Homo sapiens: one gene and its partners. The protein of the gene in region 1 interacts with the protein of each later gene in a pairwise test. Each region holds a gene or a part of one and is shown on either strand. Other genes may lie near its edges.

Evidence for each region. Proteins that work in one complex are often made in the same cells at the same time.
Region 2: the proteins of MAPDA (region 1) and ERN1 interact in binary tests that used the Homo sapiens proteins (3 or more experiments, as listed by UniProt).
Region 3: the proteins of MAPDA (region 1) and PECAM1 interact in binary tests that used the Homo sapiens proteins (3 or more experiments, as listed by UniProt).

The regions. Positions count from the first base shown.
Region 1 is NC_000015.10:43,340,404-43,348,157, forward strand, and holds part of MAPDA (N6-Methyl-AMP deaminase), read left to right. Parts: intron 1-2,590; coding exon 2,591-2,672; intron 2,673-5,450; coding exon 5,451-5,577; intron 5,578-6,612; coding exon 6,613-6,693; intron 6,694-7,754. UniProt on the Homo sapiens protein: Catalyzes the hydrolysis of the free cytosolic methylated adenosine nucleotide N(6)-methyl-AMP (N6-mAMP) to produce inositol monophosphate (IMP) and methylamine.
Region 2 is NC_000017.11:64,049,915-64,057,668, reverse strand, and holds part of ERN1 (serine/threonine-protein kinase/endoribonuclease IRE1 precursor), read left to right. Parts: intron 1-1,720; coding exon 1,721-1,994; intron 1,995-2,840; coding exon 2,841-2,931; intron 2,932-3,229; coding exon 3,230-3,419; intron 3,420-4,297; coding exon 4,298-4,397; intron 4,398-4,689; coding exon 4,690-4,889; intron 4,890-7,754. UniProt on the Homo sapiens protein: Serine/threonine-protein kinase and endoribonuclease that acts as a key sensor for the endoplasmic reticulum unfolded protein response (UPR).
Region 3 is NC_000017.11:64,373,631-64,381,384, forward strand, and holds part of PECAM1 (platelet endothelial cell adhesion molecule precursor), read right to left. Parts: intron 4,488-7,754; coding exon 4,194-4,487; intron 1,727-4,193; coding exon 1,421-1,726; intron 1-1,420. UniProt on the Homo sapiens protein: Cell adhesion molecule which is required for leukocyte transendothelial migration (TEM) under most inflammatory conditions.

The DNA.
Region 1 (7,754 bases):
ATCACTCACATGTTTGTGAGTGGGAATATGAAGCACTAACTTTTATACTATTGTGTTGTTCTGTATTTCATTGAACCTTTAGTCAACAGTCCAAGTCCTCTCTCTGATGTACATTAATGATGTTCATTTTGTTTGTTTTAGAGACAGGGTCTTGCTGTCTTGCCCAGGCTGGAGTGCAGTGGTGCAAACATAGCTCACTGTAACCACAAACTCCTGGGCCCAACAATCACCTCAGCCTCTAAAAGTGCTGGGATTACAGGTGTGAGCCACCGTGCCCATCCTGATGTACATTATTAATGAGTGAGTTATTCTTAAGTAAAAAGTAGTAAAATTCCAGTCAGGCATTATCTGTTTAAGGAAGGAAACAAAGGCCTGCAGCAGTTTCTTTTGTTCTTCCTTGTTTAGTTGTTTTCACTCTGAGAAAAGGATACCTGCTCCTTATGTTTGCATTGTTACAAGCAGAGGCTGATTCTTGCTTCCTGCATCATGGGCACTTGTGAGACAATGCCATTGAGTGGATGCAGAATCATGTTTTATGGTAGTTACTAAAATGTAGGTTATTCATTCGCTTCTCAGGGAATAGTTTCTTAGGCCAGGAGCAAGCTGTGATGTGGTAAAACCTCTCTGGATAGAGATGAGATCTGGCTATGATCTGGAGGAATTTCCTGAGATCCTCCTTCTATAAGAGCAGCATCAGGAGACATTGGGGCCCTCTTAGCACCTTGTTTATGACCCAAAGAGACCTAGGTCATCTTGTTTCCTGATATATGTAGCTCAGTAATCATTTGGGGGTAAAATTTTTGAAACTTATTGTAAAGTATAAGTGTTTACATAAGATAAGGAGAAGGCTCTCATCTTGCATTTTTGAACCATAGAATCAGTTCCACGTTGTACTGGTGAGAGTAGTGAAAGGGAAGGAGAGAAGAGCCAACTCATAGGGCTCTTTCAATGGAGTTTTAAAAGAAGGATATTAACCTAAATATGCAACAGTAGAGGAATGGTTAAATAAAGGCTAATGGAATATTAGGCAACCATTAAAAATACTGGTGAAGACACTTTAATGACATGGGGAAATACTCGGACTCATGTTAAATGACTGAACTGGGTACATATATACCTAGTAGTATCTTCTCTATTTAAAAATGTGTATATGGGCAGAGTGCAGTGGCTCATGCCTGTAATTCCAGCGCTTTGGGAGGCTGAGGCAGGAGGATCACTTGACGCCAGAAGTTCGAGACCAGCCTGGGCAGCATCATAAGACCCCCCCCACCTCTATGGGCTCCAAGGGCTGCAGTGAACCATGATCGTGCCACTGCCCTCCAGCCTGAGCAACAGAGAGAGACCTTAAAAAAGGTCTCTTGAAATAATACATAAAAATAAATGTGTATATGTGTACTTGGAAAACAGTAGTTATCTCTGGGTGGTGGGGTTATTTTTATTTATTTATTTTTTTTGAGACGGAGTCTTGCTCGTCACCCAGACTGGAGTGCAGTGGTGGGATCTTGGCCCACTGCAACCTCCGCCTCCAAGGTTCAAGTGATTCTCCTGCCTCAGCCTCCCGAGTAGCAGGGATTATAGGCACATGCCACCACACTTGGCTCATTTTCATATTTTTAGTAGAGACAGGATTTCACCATGTTGGCCAGGGTGGTCTCGAACTCCTGACCTCAGGTGATCGGCCCGCCTCGGCCTCCGAAACTGATGGGATTACAGGCATGAGCCACCACACCCTATTTTTATTTTTATTTATAATTTTATATATTTTACCAGAGACTTTCCACCAAACATAAGCATTTTATAATCCGGGTAAAAGGGTATTTTATTTTACCCAATGTAGCCTAAAGAAAAAGAAAAAAAGGTATTTTACAGGAGGTTGCTCTGGAGAGTGCTCTTGCAGATCCCCTCAGAGAGCAGAGCACTCAGACTTGGAAGAACATGCCTGGTTCCCTGGATGAGAAACACTAAGCCCGAGCAGGATTGAGGGGAAAGGAATCCAAGTTAGGACTTTTTTTCTGGACTAGGAGGAGAGAAAATATCCCTTTTAAAAAAAAAAAAAAAAAAAAGGACAAGTGTAGTGGCTCATACCTGTAATCCCAGCACTTTGGGAGGCCAAGGCGGGCGTGTCACTTTCAGCCCAGGAGTTTGAGACCAGCTTGGGCAACATAGCAAAACCCCGTCTCTACTAAATATCCAAAAACTAGCTGGGCGTGGTGGTACCTTCCTGTAGTCTCAGCTACTCAGGAGGCTGAGGTGGCAGGATGGCTTGAGCTCAGGAGACAAAGGTTGCAGTGAGGCAAGATCATGCCACTGCACTCCAGCCTGGGTGACAGCCAGACCCTGTCTCAAAAAAAAAAAAAGCCTTTATTTTTTTTCATTTCATTTCTCTAACACTTCATTTCCCCCTAATTTTATTAAAATATAATTTGCATTTACTAAAATATACCCATAAGGGCCATGTTTTCACTCATCTTTAACTATGCCCTTGTCATAGCATAAAGTGAAAATGTAATTGTTCATATAGGATTGCTGAAGGTGAGGGATGAAATAGTTGATGATCTCTTTACATGTATTTTCTATGTGTCCTTTCTAGGAATGACTAAAAAGACTTATGTGGAATCTATACTTGAAGGTATAAAACAGTCCAAACAAGAAAACTTGGACATTGATGTTAGGTAAGAAGATTGTACCTTAGTAGTTAACATTTACAAAACCAGAATGTGAATTTTTACTGTTTTGATCATGGGTGTAATGGATTTTTTAAAATTAATCATTCATTGATTTATACAATAGAAAAATAAAATCAAGGACCCTGTTGTTTAAAGTGAGAACACAATTCTGAGTTTATTCATAAGGCAATAAAATTCTGAGTATTTTTACATGAGTAAAGTATGGTGTTCCTTTGCCATTAAGCTAAAATGAACTTCTTACTGTGGCCTACAAGGTCCCACATGATCTGGCTGCCTCTGTTACTTCAGCAGCTCATCTAGACCACTCCTCCTCCCTTACACGTGGGCCTGCTGTCTGTTCCTAAAATAAGCAAAAAAGACTGTTCCCCTTCAGCACCTTTGTTTAGTATTCCCCAGAACACATTTCTACCAGATTCCTGCCCAGCTGGCTGGCTTCTTCTCATTATTCAGATCTCAATTGGCTGTTACTTCCTCAGAGGGGCCTTCCTTTACCACTCTGTCTAAAGTGCCCTACTAATCCTCTAGTCACCCATCTATTTCCTTTATGGCATTATTTGTAACAAGATTAGGAATTATCTTGTGTTAGTTTGTATATATGCCCACCCACTAGGGTGTAAGTGTAGTGAAGCCAAGGACCTTGTTTTTTGATTCACCACTACATCTTTAGTACTTACCACAAAGTAGGTACATAGTATGGGCTCAGTAAAGCCCTAAATGAAGAAAGAAAAAAAGCTAGCTGTATAGTTTCAGGCTATAAGACTCTAAAAATTAAGCTTAAGTAATAACCCCAATAAAAAACCAAGCAGAAGACAATAGAATGCAGAGAAGAAGACATACAAAGAGCTGGTAGACATATAGAAATACAGAGAAAACTACTTAATTCATTAATCATATATTACAATACTGTTTCAGTAGGCTAAAAAAAGTAATAGCCAGTGTTTGTAAGTTACACACTGCTGGTAAGCATATGTAATTAATAAAACCTCTTTAAATCCTGCACTGGTACACAGGTAAGGGGGGAAAAACCTCTCTAAAGAGCAATATATGTCAAGATTTATAAAAAAGTTTTTCCCTCTGACACAGTAATTCTGTGCTAGAAATGCATCCCAGGAAATAGATTGATTTATGCATAAGATTCCTTATTATAATGTTATTTATAACAAAAATTAGAAAATAGCTTAAAATATCCAGCATTCAGAGGATAATTACATTATGGTATGCTCATATGATTTATACTATTTTCTAACATTATTTTAATGGCATGGGAAGTTGCTAAGTGAAAAAAAAAGATACAGCATTTTATATGTAGTTGATCTAAATTTTGTAAATAAATAAATGAACAAATGCTAAAGGAATTTATTTCGTCAATAAATAGTAAACTCATAACTGCTTTAAAAAATTATAGGGGTTCTCTGGGTATTCAAGAAATATTAACAGGCCAAGCACAGTGGCTCATGCCTGTAATCCCAGAACTTTGGGAGGCCAACATGGGCAGATCACCTGAGGTCAGGAGTTGGAGACCACCCTGGCCAACATGATGAAACTCCATCTCTACTAAAAATACAAAAATTAGCCAGGTGTGGTGGCAGGCACCTGTAATCTCAGCTACTCAGAAGGCTGAGGCAGAATTGCTTGAACCCGGGAGGTGGAGGTTGCAGTGAGCTGAGATCGTGCCATTTCACTCCAGCCTGGGTGACAAGAATGAAATTCTGTCTCAAAAAAAAAAAAAAAAGAAATATTAACAGAGATTCTCTGGGTATTCAAGTCTTATAGAATTCCAGCTGATATTTGAGGAATGAACTTTTATCAGATATTTGATACATTTTAGAAAGAGAATATTTCTAATTTTGTAACCCCCTAATGAAATAATGGATCTCACCCTCCTAAGAACACACCACCACCAGTTTACTCTTGCCAAAAAATGGAACCTGATCTGCCTCTGGACTAGACAGGAAATGTAAGAAATAGGACAACATGTTAAAGGCTGGGCATGGTGGTTCACGCCTGTAATCCCAGCACTTTGGGAGGCTGAGGCGGGCGGATCATGAGGTCAGGAGATCGAGACCATCTTGGCTAACACGGTGAAACTCCGTCTCTACTAAAAATACAAAAAATTAGCCGGGCGTGGTGGCACGTGCCTATAACCCCAGCTACTCGGGTGACTGAGGCAGGAGAATCGCTTGGACCCGGGAGGCAGAGATTGTAGTGAGCCCGAGATTGCACCATTGCACTCCAGCCTGGGCGACAGAGTGAGATTCCATCTCAAAAAAAAAAAAAAAAAATAGGACAACATGTTAACAACACAGGATACAATCAACAAAATCCAGACCATGGAAAACTTTGTAGGACAAACAACTTGGTTTCTTCAACAAATAAGTTACAAGAAAAGCAGGGTGGGAGGTGGGAGGAGAGGAAAGAGTGGTTGTAGATTAAGAGAGGCTTAGAAGATACATTGACTTACACAAAGTGTGGACCTTGTTTGGATCCTGAATCAAACAAACTGAAGAAACAAATACAGGAACAAAAAAACCTCGAAAGACAACTGTAAATCTGAACAGTGACTGGATGCTTGATGCTATTTAGGAATTCATGTCTCAGTCCGTATGACAAAGTAAAATGTCATGTTGTCTAGATTCAGTCAGGCTATACTTTTCCTAGTGAGATGTATTACACGTAGTCTGCCATCTCTGTCTGGCTGTACTCAGAATTGTCTTTTTCATCTGTGTCATATTAGTTTTCAACTCTGTCTTTCTTACATTAAAGGTATTTGATAGCAGTTGACAGAAGAGGTGGCCCTTTAGTAGCCAAGGAGACTGTAAAACTTGCCGAGGAGTTCTTCCTTTCTACTGAGGGTACAGTTCTTGGCCTTGACCTCAGTGGAGACCCTACTGTAAGTTATTTTTCCTACGTACATTTTAATTCTAAAAGGTAGAATCAGTGGGATAAGGACTAGCTTCGGGCATCTTGCATTGCATTCTCCAGAGTGTCCAACAGACACTCCATTCTGTGGATGAAGGCCTGTTCTGCCCTGGATGACCAGAATGCCTAGAGCAGCTCTCATCCAAGGTTCTGTGAAACAATTAAGTACCCTAAAAGAAAAAAAAAGAGTTGCCTGACTATATGACTATTTTCTCCATTCTTCTAAAGATGGTGCACAACTAGTCCCAGACTATATGCACTATAATGTAATTCATTACATACAATGGATGGATGTCTTAGGGTATTAGGGCTTAACTGTCTCATAGATAGTTGAGAAATGTTGACTTGAGCTTCTTGAATGTCAGATTCAAGCAGAAATCTTGATATTCGGGGCTGGATAATTTGTTGTGGGGCTGCCCCATGCATTGTAGGATGTTTAGCAGCATCCTTGGCCTCTACCCACTAGATGCCAGTAGCACTCTCCCAGATATGACAACCAAAAATGTCTCCAGACATTGCCAAGTGTCCCCTGGGGGGCAGAATTGCTCCTGGTTGAAAACAGCTGAATAAGAGAGTCCCATGAAATTGATTCTTATGGCTTTGTCCAAACCTGGAGTATTCTGCCCTTCTTTTTATCCACCTGTTTAACGGAAGTGTTTTGAGTAATCATGAGAGTTCCTGAGTCAAGTGAGTGAGTTCTCCTTAGCTCTGGATATCTAGGTGTCCTTCCAGGCATAAAATTTGGTGACTACTATATCCAGCTTAGCTGATTGACCTCAGTTTACTGATACTAGACAAGATTCTCGAGGGCAGGAACTGTGCCTTTGCCAGCTTTGTATTCAGTGAAGTGGCTCGCACATTGTAGGTGCTTTATAAACAAGATGTGCAAATGAATTAATCTACCATTATTTTTTTCTGCCATTATGTTGTTTATTGGAATGGAGTACTCAGTTCCTCAGTTTTCCCAGAATTCTCATGCATCCTTATTTTAACTTTTATCTTTAAGGTAGGACAAGCAAAAGACTTCTTGGAACCTCTTTTAGAAGCTAAGAAAGCAGGTCTGAAGTTAGCATTGCATCTTTCAGAGGTAAATAATATTGTCTTAGGCTAGAAGGGACAGATTGTAATAGAAAATAATAGGGTCATTTGTAAGTGACTAGGAATAAACCGGGATTGGAAAAACATTTTTTAAAAAGGGAAAGTAGAAATATTTTTACATCTAAATTTAAAAATACATGACTTGCTTCAGTCTCTACTGTTACTGTTTTTATCCTTTTGTGGTTCCTGGGAGTGGCTGTTGACTCAAATGCCAGCTGTGTCATTAAAAGCAGTTTAATGACGTCTTGCTAGAGAAAATGCATGAATTTCCAACATCAGTCTTGTCATTGGCAAGCTGACTCTAAGAAAAGCACCAATTTATCTCACCTGTCCTCATAGTAGAAGGGACCTGATTGTATCACATCCACTGGCAGTAAAGGAAGCAGCTCGTCATTTTTCAAAGCCCAGCAAAGAGGTCCAGTGCCCCTCATCAGCCCCAAGCTCACTGTTAGCATGAACGTAGTAACAGATAATTGCTGGGAAGTAGTCACTTTCTTAAGCACATCCTTATGAGGCAAACCCCTTTTGAGGGACTTTGCTGCAATTTTCCCCATTTTATAAATGGATGTATTTTTTACCTCAGTACTTCTAGCTATTTAATTATTTCTTAAATGCAGAAAATAATACTTAGTCTACTTACCTCACAGTTATTGTATTAAAGGGGTAATGTATAAAGGTTGAGTAACATCATGATTTAAAGATTAGGGAAAAAAATCAGAACCCCTTGCCAGTACTTGTATCTTTCATGTCTATAAGCAGAAGGTCAGTAATCTAGTGGCAGGACTTAAAATCTAGAATCTATGTTTCCACACTCTTAACTCAAAAGACCTTTCATCCACAGGACATCCTATGGCTGACCTAACTGATGTGTGATAGAAACCATTGGTCATTATAAGGGAATAGCATGTGTGACAGTGACCAGTTATCTCTGGCCTTGTGTGCAACATCAGAACTTGTTCTTTACCTTAGTTTCTGTTGCTTTTATCATCCAGTCCATTGGATATAAAAGATTTCATTTAAAAATGTTCTGAGCATTTGTGTTTTGGGCTA
Region 2 (7,754 bases), on another chromosome or scaffold:
CGGGCGGGCACAGTGGCTCACGCCTGTAATCCCAGCACTTTGGGAGGCCGAGGCGGGTGGATCACAAGGTCAGGAGATCAAGACCATCCTGGCTAACACAGTGAAACCCTGTCTCTACTAAAAATACAAAAAATTAGCCGGGCATGGTGGCAGGGGCCTGTAGTCCCAGCCACTCTGGAGGCTGAGGCAGGAGAATGGCGTGAACCCGTGAGGCGGAGCTTATAGTGAGCTGAGATCACACCACTGCACTCCAGCCTGGGCGACAGAGCAAGGCGACAGAGCAAGACTCCATCTCAAAAAAAAAGAAAAAAAAAGTCAGTGTTTGTTTATCTTCAAAAACATAATTAAAGAGACACTAGCCTCCCAGAAAAGGACAATTTTGTTCCTAAATCTTAGTGTTTTTCAGCTAAGAGCTGATTTATAAGCCTTGCTCAAAGATGATTTTGAATAGTTATCTGTATTTTTAAAGAATAAGGATAATAGATGAAGACCTTTCCTCCCTTAAAAACTGCCATTAGAACTTCTGCTGGGGAGAAGAACCAAAAAAAGAAAAAAGAAGCTGCCTGTGAGATCAGCTTGTGTGAAAAAGGCAGTGTGGCCATCCCTTTACTTCCTAGTTGGAAATGAGCAAGTTCTGTAGCAGAACAGGCCATGGGTGGGATGAAATATGTGAGGGGCATGGTCCTTCAGCAGGTTGCTCAGAGCATCGAGATGCTGTTACCTGAGAGCTCAGGAAGCTAATGACCCGCCCAGGAATGGGAATGACAGACTCTTTATGGCACTCCCCACTGGCACGTCTGCACCTGATAGTTTCACTTTTCACCTCACTCAGTCCTATGAGGTCATTATTATTGATCCCTTGTCCACAAAAGAAGGAAGTAGACCCTGAGAAGCTAAGTAACTTTCCCCACGGGTACCCAGCTAGTAGACGGCATTTCTAGGACTCCACCCCATGGTGGAGAGAAGAAGAGACGACTCCCTGGTGGGTTGGTGGCTCACAGAAGTCCCTTCAGTCCACCTCCTGCACATGGGTAGGGATGATCACAGATCGCTGCTACTTCAGATAATGACAGAATGAATCCTTCAGAGTATTTGAGAGGCATGTGGCCTCGGGGAAGGCAGTGGGATGAAAGGCGGAAGCAGGACCTCAGCCAGGCTCACCATGTGTCAGCCCCACTGCCACCTCCTGGCTATGTGTATGCAGATGTACTCTGCATACCTAGAATACTAGAGCTTCCTCACCTGCCCCTCTGGATTACTGAGTGTCTGTGCGCTAGCCTCTAGCCAACACACAGACACGGTGGGTGGCGAACCTGGGGCTTGCTCTCACCCACCACTGGCTCAGCCATGCTACCTGTGCTTCCTGTTTGGTTTCACCTTTGCAACAACTCTCAGACTTTCATGAAAATCACAGAATTTTAGAACTGAATGAAACTGGCACAGCCCTCAACCTAGGGCACAGTCCCTCCCCTGGTGGCCATCCAGCCCCTCCTAGGGTTGGGGAGTGGGCTGTATGAGCAAGGATCTAACTAGTCGGTGGAAAGACGTCCAGTCATCGAAGCAATTCTGCTTCCAGGTGCCTTCTCACTGGTCTCTTTGTGCCCTGTTGGGTCACATAAAGTACACATGCTCCCTCCGCCACTGGGACCTGTCCCTTCCCAGCTGCTTGTTTCCCTGTGGGAACAGCTGCCCTTGTCTGGATGTGGGTTTCTCTTCCCAGAGCATGCATCAGCAGCAGCAGCTCCAGCACCAGCAGTTCCAGAAGGAACTGGAGAAGATCCAGCTCCTGCAGCAGCAGCAGCAGCAGCTGCCCTTCCACCCACCTGGAGACACGGCTCAGGACGGCGAGCTCCTGGACACGTCTGGCCCGTACTCAGAGAGCTCGGGCACCAGCAGCCCCAGCACGTCCCCCAGGGCCTCCAACCACTCGCTCTGCTCCGGCAGCTCTGCCTCCAAGGCTGGCAGCAGCCCCTCCCTGGAACAAGACGATGGAGGTAAAGCCAGTTGCCATCTTGGTGCTATTTTATGTTTTATTCGAGCACCTCCTGAGAAGTCCAAGGAGTCTCCATAAGATTGTAAACTACCATTCTCAGGGGTTCACTGTGTTCTCCTCTAACTTCCACTCTGGGGGTCTCTGTGGGAAGGCTTCTGCCCCATCCCTTGGCATCTCCCCTTCAGAGGGCCTTCTGGGAACCACCCTGGCCATCCTCCTGTCTTTCTCCACAAGGGCTGGGCGTCGCGGCTGACCAGAGGTGAGCTGCCCATTGGGCTGAAGAGAGTTCCCAGGGCCAGCCGGTGGCCAAGTGTGGAAGTGTCACAGTTGGTCTGCTTTCCTCTGTGGAAGTTGGCTCAAGCCAGTTGTCAGAGCCCCAATTCTGAGGGAACTGGCACAGAGCTGGTGCAGGGAACTCAGAGCCCTCTGTCCCAAGGAGTCTCCTCGTTTTACATGTCCATTGCCGCCACCTGAATGCTTCAGTGCGGATCTTTACAGTGGACTTTGTGGTGGTTGTTAACTATTAAACCATTCTAACTATATCACAATGAATATGTATAAGTGTGTGAAACGCTATGGAGAATCCCTGCCTTCCAGAAGGTTTTAAGATATGCAATCGCACAATAAGGTAAAGGCGGAGACAGAATGCAGGGGCAGGGGGAAGAGGCAGTCCTGGGTGTACATGGGGAGTGGGCCTGGCAGGCTCTTGCTGAGCAGCAGTCTGGGGTGCAGTGCCTCTTAAATCCCATCTTTTAATCTGAGGTCAGGAAGCTTGTCACTATGTTAACCTCAAGGTTCTTTAGGTGATATCTGTTTGAAACAATCTCTTTTTCCTATTTTGTCCCAGATGAGGAAACCAGCGTGGTGATAGTTGGGAAAATTTCCTTCTGTCCCAAGGATGTCCTGGGCCATGGAGCTGAGGGCACAATTGTGTACCGGTGAGTGGATTAGCCAGCCCCCTGCCCTCACCGCCTGGTGTCTAAGTGCCTGTCAGGTTGCGAGCCTGGTGCCAGGCTCAGAGCACAGCAGGGTCAAAGCAGTGACCTAGACGCATGGAGTCCGGCCTCCAGGGAGCTTGCACACTGAGACAAGCGATGATTCCGGGGCCACCAGGCAGTCAGGCGGGGCTCTCTAGGCTGGGAGGCAGTAGGTGAATGCTGTGGACCCAGGTTCTCACCTCATTTACACAGCCTGACTCGTGCTTCCCAGACACAACTCCCACTCCTCATCCCGCAGGGGCATGTTTGACAACCGCGACGTGGCCGTGAAGAGGATCCTCCCCGAGTGTTTTAGCTTCGCAGACCGTGAGGTCCAGCTGTTGCGAGAATCGGATGAGCACCCGAACGTGATCCGCTACTTCTGCACGGAGAAGGACCGGCAATTCCAGTACATTGCCATCGAGCTGTGTGCAGCCACCCTGCAAGAGGTGGATTTATTTTTTTTATTTTGTTAACTTTATTAAAGTCATAGCACTTTGGGAGGCCAAAGTGAGCAGATCACGTGAGCTCAGGAGTTTGAGACCAGCCTGGACAACATGGTGAAACCCCATCTCTACAAAGAAACCAAAAATTAGCCAGGCCTAGCGATGTGTTCCTGTAGCCCCAGCTACTTGGGAGGCTGAGGTGGGAAGATTGCTTGAGCCTGGGAGATCAAGGCTGCAGTAAGCAGTGATTGTGCCACTGCACTCCAGCCTGGACAACAGAGTGAGACCCCGTCAAATTAAAAAAAAGTTACAGTGAATTGTACTAATTTTAAATGTAATAGCTTGATGAATTTTGACAAATGTCTATACCCATTTAACCACATACACAGTCAAAATGTGGAGCATTTTTATCCCTCTGGTTGTAACAGGGTGGTCCCCCCAGCATGCCTGGGCAGTCTGCTTGCAGTTGGCATGTCTCTCCCTCTTTGCCTCCAGGAAACCTGGACAGTTGTTCTTTCCCTCTTCAGTCATGGCTGGTGTGGGCTTGGAGGATGCCAGTTGGTAACTCCAGGCTTTAAGATCATCCAGCAAGCTCCTTTTGCTCATTTTCCAGGCTCACTTTGAAACCATATCAGTATCATTTGGATTCCTTTGTAGGTTTACTTATATGAGGCAATGAACTTGAGTTTCTTGCCTTCTTATCTTTCTCATTGTAAATTAGTAGATTTGGAGGTTTGCTCCTTGCTGGAAAACATGGATTTAGACAGAATGTTGTCAGTAAAACTTGCCATTTCTTTCTTAAAATGGTATCAAAGAAAGTGAGCCGAGGGGCCAAGTCCTGAGGACTGTGTGCCGTGACCTTGCTGTCATGTCTTTTGCAGTATGTGGAGCAGAAGGACTTTGCGCATCTCGGCCTGGAGCCCATCACCTTGCTGCAGCAGACCACCTCGGGCCTGGCCCACCTCCACTCCCTCAACATCGGTGAGAGGCTGCACTTTACCAGGCCAGCGGCCCGGGTGGGGAGAATCAGTGGCCCAGGTGGGGCTAACCAGTAGCTCGGGTGGGCCTTGCTTCTGTTCAAGCTCTTGGCTATATCACCAGTAGCAAAGATGAGTGGTGTAAGAATTTGAGGAGGAATCCGACATAGTTGAAAATCAGAACATTTGGAGGTGGCGGCAGGCATATTGGGAGTCTGACGAGGACACATTCCCCATTGGAGGAGGCCTGGGGTTGCTCCTGGTAAGCATTGGACTAATCTGGAGTTCTCTGTTAGTTCACAGAGACCTAAAGCCACACAACATCCTCATATCCATGCCCAATGCACACGGCAAGATCAAGGCCATGATCTCCGACTTTGGCCTCTGCAAGAAGCTGGCAGTGGGCAGACACAGTTTCAGCCGCCGATCTGGGGTGCCTGGCACAGAAGGCTGGATCGCTCCAGAGATGCTGAGCGAAGACTGTAAGGAGAACCCTGTGAGTAATAGGCTATGGCCCTTTGAAAACTACAGAACCAGCCCATTGTATCTTCAGGAGTAGAACCTTTAAATTCCAGGTTTGGGGGCTGGTGCCCGTGTAGCTGGAGAATGGCATTCCTTTCACCAAGAGCTTCTGTGTGAACATTCTGTGTCATCTCATGTTCAGCTGATTAAAGGGGCAAATGTGGGCAATTATCTATTTTTTTTCCCTATTCTTCCAATCACTTGTTTTTTTTTTTTGTTTGGTTGGTTGGCTGTTTTTTTGTTTTTTTTGTGTGACAGAGTCTTACTGTCACCCAGGCTGGAGTGTAGTGGCATGATCTCAGCTCACTGCAATCTCCACCTCCCAGGTTCAAGCGATTCTCCTGCTTCAGCCTCCTGAGTAGCTAGGATTACAGGTACCTGCCACCACACCCAGCTAAATCAATCACTTTTTAACCCCTTTTTAATTTTGGTAAACTGGGAAGTCAGGGCTTGCTTAGCGTGAGCAAACTTCAAGTTTTCATTATTTTTAAAATTTTGTTTTTGTTTTCTCAACTTATTTTGATAATTTTTAGACATAGAGAAAATTAAAAGAAAAAAATTTTTTAGAAGTGCGATCTCGCTATTTTGCCCAGGCTGGTCTTGAACTCCTGGGCTCAGGCTTAGCCTCCCAAAGTGCTGGGATTGCAGACATGAGCCACAGCATCTGGCTGAAAGAATGTTAACATGAATACCTGTGTATCTCCACCTAGATTCAACATTTGTTAATACTTTTGCCACATTTGCTTTATCTTTACCTATTACTGAACCATTTGAATATAAGTAGCAGGCATCCTGGCCCTTCATCCCTGAAGACCTCAGCACGTGTCTCCTAAGGAATACATTGTGTTTCCAACCACAATACCATTATCCCACCTCAACAGTTAATACTGTTTCTATCCATCATCTCATATTCAATCCATATTCAAATTTCCCCAATTAGTCCCCAAATGTCTTTTATAGAGTTGGTATTTTGCTACCTACTGGGTTTTGATACCTACTGGGTTTTATATACCAGGATGGAATCAGGTGTCTTGCGTTACATTTGATTCTGTCTCTTGGAATTTACAAATCTTTCCACCTATATTTTGTTCCATGTTGAAGTTCCATTTTGAAGAGTCCAGGCAGTGGGTTATAGGATGCCCCATTCTGGTTTGTTTGCTTTTTTCCTCATGACAGCGTTGAACATTTCTCTGTATTCCTTGTATTTCCTGGAAACCAGAAGTTAGGTGGAGAGGCTTGATTAGGTTCAAGTTAAATGTTTTTGGCACGAATGTTTTTGGCAGGTCTCTACATCAGAAAGCATGTGATGGCAGATTGTATCTGTAAGATTATTATCACCTCCTCTTAGTGATGCTACAGCTGATCTCTCTACCATAAGGGTTCATTTCCTCCTCTCTTGTTAGTATTTGGGGTGATACTTCAGCACAATGTGAATATCCTGTTTACTGACAGTCACTCACCCAGTGGTTTAGCATGTGTTGATCACCCTTGCCTGAAGTACTCAGTTGAGTAGAAATTCTTCTACATTGTTAGCTGACATTTTTCTGTAAAGCAGAGCTTTCTTTTCACTTTCTTCTCTCTCTCTTTTTTTTTTTTCTTAATCGCTATGGGCTCAAGGATTTTGAAACTAATGTTATAATCCATTTTAGTCCTTTTTTTGTTATTTACTTCTTTTGATACACAAATTGTTCCAAATTTGGCCAACCTGGAAACCCCTTCAAGCTGGCTTCTGCATCCATTTGCTGGGAGCGCACTCACACTTGAGCACCTTATTCTAGCACAAGTCGCCGAGGCTCACCTTGGACACTCCCCGATGGAGACCTGGGTGGGTCAGTCATCTTGAGTGGATTAGATATGGCTGCCTCTTATCCAGCTCACTGGGGACCAGCAGCTGGTCAGATCATCAAAGAAGTCAGTTACAGCGAAGAATCATAAAAACACGCACGCACGCCGTAACACTTAATTTTAACTTAAAGCAAGTAATATTAGCCCTTAAGTCATAGAAATCTTGTGCTGTAGGCTAAGGTCTTTTCAGATTTGGGTCTGACTGACTGGAGTCCTCATTTTCCCCCTTGCATTAAGCACACTTCTGTACCACTTCTGTGACTTCTGCATGGAGGCTTGGACACTTCAAACACTTCCTAAGCGATTTGAGAGCAGAAGCCTGGTTTTTAACGCTTCATGACCCAGTCCCTTACGGTTGAATCCACCACACCAAATGCCGCAGCAGCTCTTGTAACCATTCCCTTTCCTTTATCGAGTCTTTCTAAAGATTCAGCTTACCTCAGACTTCGTGGCACTCATGTTTAACAGCTTATGGAATATCCAAATTACAAGGACAAGTGGCAATAATAAGTTTGGGAAAGAACATAATTGGGGCCAGGCAGGTAGGAAAGATGCCTCTTCACCTTAGTGTTGTCTGTGCTGGGGACAGCAGGCTGCAGAGAGTGTGGGGGGCGTGAAAGACCCAGAGAGCTCTGGGAGTCAGGGGCGAGCTCCAGCTGTGGTGGCCATGTTCCTCCTGTCCCGAATCCAGCACCTTCCTAAGGGAAAATCCAGTGAGGTAGAATAAAGCATGGTAGGTTTGGAGATTGGAAGACCTGAGTCCCATCCTGGTTTATCACATCCAGCAGTGACCCTGAGCTTGTCATGCAACCTTTCTGTCCACGTTCTCATCTGGGGATGAAAGCATTTGCTCTGCTCGCCTCACAAGGTTGTTGTGAGGCTGAATGAGAGTGCTGTGTTGTTCAAGGTGTGTCTCCTCCAGCATGGGAGGTGATGAGCCCCTGCTTCCTCACACTAGACCCTCACTTCACCTGGTGGAGAATCTCAGAGGCAG
Region 3 (7,754 bases), on another chromosome or scaffold:
CATTATAAATGATTGTCACTTTATATACATACTTTATATCCTGCTCTTTTGTCTGAAAATTCTACCCAGAGCACACATGATTTTATAATCAGATAATAGAACATACAGACACACATACACACAATGGGCAGGATAAAGTGGGATGCCAAAAGAAGGGGACCATTTATGACAAAATGTAAGTTTCCTATTTTGGAAATATTTGCAAATATCTACATGGGTGTGCCTTCCCCTGACTTCTCCCGGCTTGGCAAATGAGACCGGGTCCTGGGAGTGGCTGACTACCTGTCCTAGAGCCCTGTATGTCCTGGACACTCCCCAGCTTCCCTCTGCTGTTGCCTCCTTCTCTCCTGGGAGCATTTCCCAGGCCACCTCATTTGTTTGCTGTTTGTCCAACGCAAATCTACGTTGAACAACAGGAGGCCAAGGCTGAGGACCTGGCCCCTCTTTCCTCCCGATCCCCTCCAAACCCAACTTCCTGGTGTCTGACCCTCGATGGCTTAAAGCAGTGGCTTCCAAACTACAGATCACATAATGCATCAGTGTAGTGTGTCATGGCCAGTGTTTAAAGACTGAAATAGGCTGGGCACGGTGGCTCACGCCTGTAATCCTAGCACTTTAGGAGGCCGAGGTGAGTAGATCATCTGAGGTTAGGAGTTTGAGACCAGCCTGGCCAACATGGTAAAACCCTGTCTATACTAAAAATACAAATTTAGCCAGGCATGGTGGCATGCCCCTGTAATCCCAGCTACCCAGGAGGCTGAGGCAGGAGAATCGCTTGAACCTGGGAGGCGGAGGTTGCAGTGAGCTGAAATCATGCCACTGCACTCCAGCTCAGGCAACAGAGCAAGACCCTGTCTCAAAAACACACACAAGGTTGGGGTGGTGGCTCACGCCTGTAATCCCAGCACTATGGGAGGCCAAGGCGGGTGGATCGCCTGACATCAGGAGTTTGAGACCAGCCTGGCCAACATGACGAAACCCCATCTCTACTAAAGATACAAAAATTAGTCAGGTGTGGTGCTGCATGCCTGTAATCCCAGCTACTCCAGAGGCTGAGGCATAAGAATTGCTTGAACCCGGGAGGCAGAGGCTGCACTGAGCCAAGATTGCACCACTGCACTCCAGCTTGGGCGACAGAGCGAGACTCTGTCTCAAAAAAAAAACCCCAAAAACCAAGCCAAACAAACAAAAAGCATCATATATATTAAGAGTAAAGTGTTGTTGGTGAAACTCTTGTCTGAAAAATTGTATGCAATTTAACTGTATAACAGTCAAAAAAGCTTGAAAAATACTGGCTTAAAATGATTAAGAACAGGTCTTAAGTCCTGAGAACAGCAGCCCCTTCCCAGTTCTGGGTTCTTTCTCCCCATACCAAACCAGAAACCACAAAGAACGATGAGGAAGGGAGCAGGATGCTGACCCGTCACGGTGACCAGTTCACTCTTGGTAGATTCTGAGGTCTGCATATGGATCCCAGAAATGATCCTAGCTTGACATCGGAAGGATAAAACGCGGTCCTGTTCCTCAACGGGGAATTCCAGTATCACAAAATTCTGGTCTCGAGAATTCTTCTCTCTTTTCAGCTTGACCATTTTTTCATTTAGTTCAAGTTTTTCAATTGTGAAGTGTATTGGGGCCTTTTCCTCTGGGACAGAACAGTTGACCCTCACGATCCCACCTTGGATGGCCTCTTTCTTGTCCAGTGTCACCCTGGGACTGGGCACTCCTACGGGGAAAGAGAAAGTCTGTCAGTATCAGCCTGATTGAAGAGAAAGTCTGTCAGTATCAGCCTGATTGAGAGACACAAGCCTCCCTCCGCTGAGTGACTGTAGTTGACCCATGAGAGGGCTCTTTTTTGTTCTCTGAACACCCAGTGCGACCTACCAGGTAATAAATGAACAGGTATGTGCCCAGCACAGTACTAGGCACTTTGAAATATATAAAATCTGGAGGCTGAGGTGGGTGGATCTCTTGAGCCCAGGAGTTGGAGACCAGCCTGGGCAACACGGTGAAATGCTATCTCTACAAAAAAAAAAATTAAAAATTAGCCAGGGGTAGTTAGTGGTGTGCACTGGTAGTCCCAGCTACTTGGGAGGCCGAGGTGGGAGAATCACCTGAGCCGAGGAGGTTGAGGCGGCAGTGAGCAGTGATCCCACCACTGCACTCCAGCCTGGGCAACAGAGACCCTGTCTCAAAAAAGAGAAGAAAAGAAAGGAAAAAATATAAAATATGCTCAATGGGAGCTAAGCTATGAGGAAACAAAGGCATAAGAATGATACAGTGGACTTTGGGGACTCAGGGGAAAGAGTGGGAGGGAGCGAGGGATAAAAGACTACACACTGGGTACAGTGTACACTGCTCGGGTGATGGGTCCACCAAAATCACCACTAAGGCCACGCGAGGTGGCTCACATCTGTAATCTCAACACTTTGGGAGGCTGAGGCAGGTGGATCACCTGAGGTCAGGAGTTTGAGACCAGCCTGGCCAACATGGCGAAACCCCATCTCTATTAAAAATACAAAAAATTAGCCGGGCATGGTGGCAGGCACCTGTAATCCCAGCTACTTGGGAGGCTGAGGCAGGAGAATTGCTTGAACCCCGAAGGCAGAGGTTGCAGTGAGCTGAGATCGTGCCACTGCCCTCCAGCCTGGGCAACAGAGTGAGACTCTGTCTAAAAATAAATAAATAAATAAATAAATAAATAAATAAATTTAAAAAATAAAATATGGTCAAGATGTACTTGGTGTTTTCAATGGTTTATAATCCTATTGGGAAGAGGACACAATCAGATTCCCAACAGATGATGCTTAGAGGGGAAAGGTAGCCAGTATTTGTCAGTGTCACTGTGATTGTTGTTACCCTTTATTGAATGCAGCCACAGGCTAGGACTGACTTTAATTTATTCCATGAACATTGACTGAATGCCTACTATGAGCCACATTCATTGTTCAAGATATAAGAATAAACCAAACACCATCTCTGTCTTTACAATTTCACTATCCAGAAGAGCAGACAGATGTGTAAGAATGGATGGCAATACTGAGTGAAATAGAATATTTGTGGACCGGGCATGGTGGCTCACACCTGTAATCCTGACACTCTGGGAGGCCAAGGTGGGTAAATCACTTGAAGTTAGGAGTTCGAGACCAGGCTGGCCAACATGGTAAAACCCCATCCTTACTAAAAATACAAAAAATTAGCCAGGCACAGTGGCGCGTGCCTGTAATCCCAGTTGCTTGGGAGGCTGAGACAGGAGAATCGCTTGAACCCAGGAGACAGAGGTTGCAGTGAGCCAAGGTCGCGCCATTGCTCTTTAGCCTGGGTGACAGAGGAAGACTCTGTCTCAAAATAAATAAATACATTTCTATTTATTAGGAACTCACTAGGTGCTGGAAATTTTGCTAAGCACTCTACCCACATGACACTTTTAACCCTCTCAATAATTGCCTGAAATGGGTATCGTTGTTATCTTCCTTTTACTGGTGAGGATTTTGAAGTTTAGAGCTGTTAAGGGACTTGCCCAGATTGAAACCCAGGCAGAGTGACTGCAGAACGAGGTGTCTTAACACACCGCTGTGGCCTTTATACACACAAATACCATTGAATGTAGAGAGAGCATCAGAGCTGTACTGACTGGCACCCTGGGGTAGACCCATTTTGTTTTGGAAAGAGAAGACATCATTGAGTTGAGTCTTGAAGAAGAAATTTTAATTTATGAGACGAGATGAAGAAGCATTTTGGGAGGCCAAGGCAGGTGGATCACTTGAGGTCAGGAGTTCGAGACCAGCCTGACCAACACAGTGAAACCCCATCTCTACTAAAAATACAAAATTAGCCAGGTGTGGTGGCACACACCTGTAATCCCAATTACTTGGGAGGCTGAGGCAGGAGAATCGCTTGAACCTGGGAGGCAGAGGTTGCAGTGAGCCGAGATCACACCACTGCACTCCAGACTGGGTGACAGAGTGAGACTCCATCAAAGAAAGAAAGGAAGGAAGGAAGGAAGGAAGGGCCTGGCCTATTGGGAATATGTCTAGTGCTTACGTATTCAGGTAAGGAAAATGCCAGGCAGATGAATGAGAGGGTGATGGGTGGAGAGTTAAGTCCAGTGTCACTATTCATTCACAGCTGTTATTCACGCCACTGTGTGCTATGCTCCATCTGCTTGCCTGTGCTCAGTTCCAAGGACTCACCTTCCACCAACACCTGGTACTCTGCAGTGGTTTTCTCTTTGTTGTTCACAATCACAGTACATTTATATGTCCCTGAGTCATAGATCCGGACTTCAGGAATAAAATAACTCTCTGTGCTCTTCATGGAGGAGATGTTGTAAAACAGCACGTCATCCTTATAGAACAGCATCTGGTGCTGAGGCTTGACGTGAGAGGTGGTGCTGACATCCGCGAAGCACTGCAGGGTCAGGTTCTTCCCATTTTGCACCGTCCAGTCCGGCAGGCTCTTCATGTCAACACTGTTGATTGTGAAAGCTAAATGCAAAGGGAAGGAAGGCAGACATACCTGTTATCTCAGAAACAACATCATCCCGGTGACCTTCACCACATCAGATGTGGTCTTATCCCATCCTATGCAGTATTGAGTCCAGGGGTTCTACGTGCCTACAGGGCCAGGCTGATAGTAACTGTGCACAGTGGCTCAAGCAGGAGGCAGTTGGTACTAAGCTGCAACTTTTCCCACCAAGGCAAAGGAACAGAGTGTGATAAAGATGTAGAGCTAGGTATGGTGGCTCACGCCTATAATCCCAGCACTTTGGGAGACCAAGGTGGGTGGATCACCTGAGGTCAGCAGTTAGAGACTGGCCTGGCCAACATGGTGAAACCCCCTCTCTACTAAAAATACAAAAATTAGCCAGGTTTGGTGGTGCAGGCCTGTAATCCCAGCTACTTGAGAGGCTGAGGCACAAGAATCACTTGAACCTGGGAGGCGGGGGTTGCAGTGAGGTGAGATCTCACCACTGCACTCCAGCCTGGGCGACAGAGTGAGACTGTCTCAAAAGACAAAAAAAAAAAAAGATATAGGCATTCTGTGAGCTGCCACATCTTGGCCCCTGGAGGGAGTACAGGATTCAAGCAGTCAAGTGTTCAAGTCCTGGCTCATCATTTACTGTGTGACCCTGGGCAGCTAGACTCTCTGAGCTCAGTTTCCTTACCTGTAGGATGGAGTAATCATATCTCATTAGGTCTTTGCAGGAAATGTACAGGAGAACAGCCAGAACGTCTCCTGTACAGTGCCCGATATACATTAAGTGCTTAATAAATGACTGCTACCTCCATTCCGAAACCAGATGGTCGTGCCCAGGCCCTCCTTCTCCACCCAGGCCTTACCGAATTAGCACAGTCCCAGCTGGCATTTTCTATCTGATGGGCTCTGAGGTTTCACCAGATGGTGAGGACTTGAAACCAGTTTTTAGCCTGCTACTTGCGTTTTCAGCCTCACCTGCTACCAAGAAGCAAAGACTACAGATTCCCCTCTGCCAACGGCAGGAATCTCTGGTCAAGCCTCAAAACAGCCACAATGCTCAATCAGCTATCCAATCTCTGCTAGGAACTAGGCTGTGGGTCAACTGGCCAATTGTGTCATTTCTGGCAAGTCCCCAGAACAGAATTGGCTTATATCCAGTAACCATAGGCTGTCAATAGAATTCAGCTAACTACAGATCACATATTGAGGCTCATTCACAGTAGCAGGCTGACGGAAGGGTGGATTGCTTAAAATTGGGTGCTCTCTAGCTATTGCTGTGTTTTTGTCAGTTGGTTGGTTGTGGGCAACTGCCCTGAAAATTTTCCAGGCTAGAAGATCCTGAACCATGCCCATGGGTCAGGACTTGTATCCAAACTTCAGAGCAGACCAGGGTGAACTGCTTTTTGGAGATCCTCTTGGCAATGCCTGTAGGTGCTTCTGCAGCCCACTTGTGGTCTTAGTTTTACCCCTTGACATATCTCAAAGCACTCACTAGCTTCCCTGTGGTTGTCTTTTCCAAGCACATGAATCTGGGTTTAATCAGCACCATAAAATATTCACTCTCCAAATTCCTGTCAGAAAACAACTTCAAACATCTCATGTTCTATACATGGCTAAAAAAAATATGGATGAAGCTAGGTGCAGTGGCTCACACCTGTAATCCCAGAATTTTGGGAGGCCGAGGCAGGAGGATCGCTTGAGCCCAGAAGTTCGAGACCAGCCTGGGCAACATGGCAAAACCCTGACTCTACAAAAATACAAAAGAATCAGCTGGGCATGATGGCATGTGTCTGTAGTCCCAGCTACTCAGGAGGCTGAGGTGGGAGGATCACCTGAGCCTGGGAGGTCGAGGCTGAAGTGAGCCATGATCATGCCAGTGCACTCCAGCCTAGGTGACAGAGTGAGATCCTGTCTCAAAAAAAAAAAAAAGAAAGAAAAGAGGCCAGGCGCAGTGGCTCACGGCTGTAATCCCAGCACTTTGAGAGGCCAAGGTGGGTGAATCACCTGAGGTCAGGAGTTTAAGACCAGCCTGACCAACATGGTGAAACCCTGTCTCTACTAAAAATACAAAATTAGCCGGGTGTGGTACATGCCTGTAATCCCAGCTACTTAGTAGGCTGAGGCAGGAGAATCGCTTGAGCCCGGGATGCAGAGGTTGCAGTGAGCTGAGATCGCGCCATTGCACTCCAGCCTGGGCAACAAGAGCGAAACTCCATCTAAAAAAAATTAAATAAGTATAAAAAAGAGAAAAAGTAATTGATCTGTAGGGGATTTGGAAAAAAATGTACTGAAAGTCCATGACCATAAAACCAGGTGTTTTTCCCAAATCCCTACACGTCCCCCCAGAAATTTCTACCATGCCCATTCTCAAGGAAGCTACCTATCCAGCATTTGGACCTGGGATTGAAAGTGACTATGTCTGGTATGCTTTCTTAGCCCCCCATCTATCTCCATGAAGTATGAATAATGCAATCATGGAATTTTTTAAAATTTTTGAGTGAATGGAGCAGTCCAATGTTTAAAACTCTCAAAGACAGATGACATGATATGTAAAAACCTCAAAGAGTCTGCAGACAAATTATTAGAAATAAATGTGAGTTTAGAAAGGTGGCTGGATAAGGCCAGGAATGGCAGCTCACACCTGTAATCCCAGCACTGTGGGAGGCCAGGAGTTCGAGATCAGCCTGGCTAACATGGTGAAACCCCGTCTCTACCAAAAATACAAAAATTAGCCAGGCATTGTGGCATGCACCTGTAATCCCAGCTACTTGGGAGGCTGAGGCAGGGGAATCACTTGAACCTGGGAGGCACAGGTTGCAGTAAGTTGAGATCACAACACTGCACTGGGCGACAGAATAAGACTCTGTCTGCAAAAACACAAACAAACAAACGAAAAAGAAAGGTGGCTGGATATAAGATTAATATTTTACAAGTCAGCATAGTGGTCATCTCTGGAGGGAGGGGCTATGGGGTAGGGAGAAGCACAGATGCAAGCTATTAAATGGTCTTTTGGGATGTTGGTCTGGGATGTTGATGAGATATTGTCCCTAATTTCACAAAGTGTTCCAACAGCACCAGGAAACACTGTGTTTATGCTGAACAACTGATTCATTTCTATCTTGTGGATTCTGAGAATGTTCTAATGGACCTTGTTCCTCTTTTTGCTTTGATTGTTAACACACAGCAAAAATTTCACCTCTGCTTCTAGCAATCTTTGGGATGCGTTTGTGCTAAATGGGCCATAGCTTTATTTCCCTGCCTTTATTTTTCTCTCA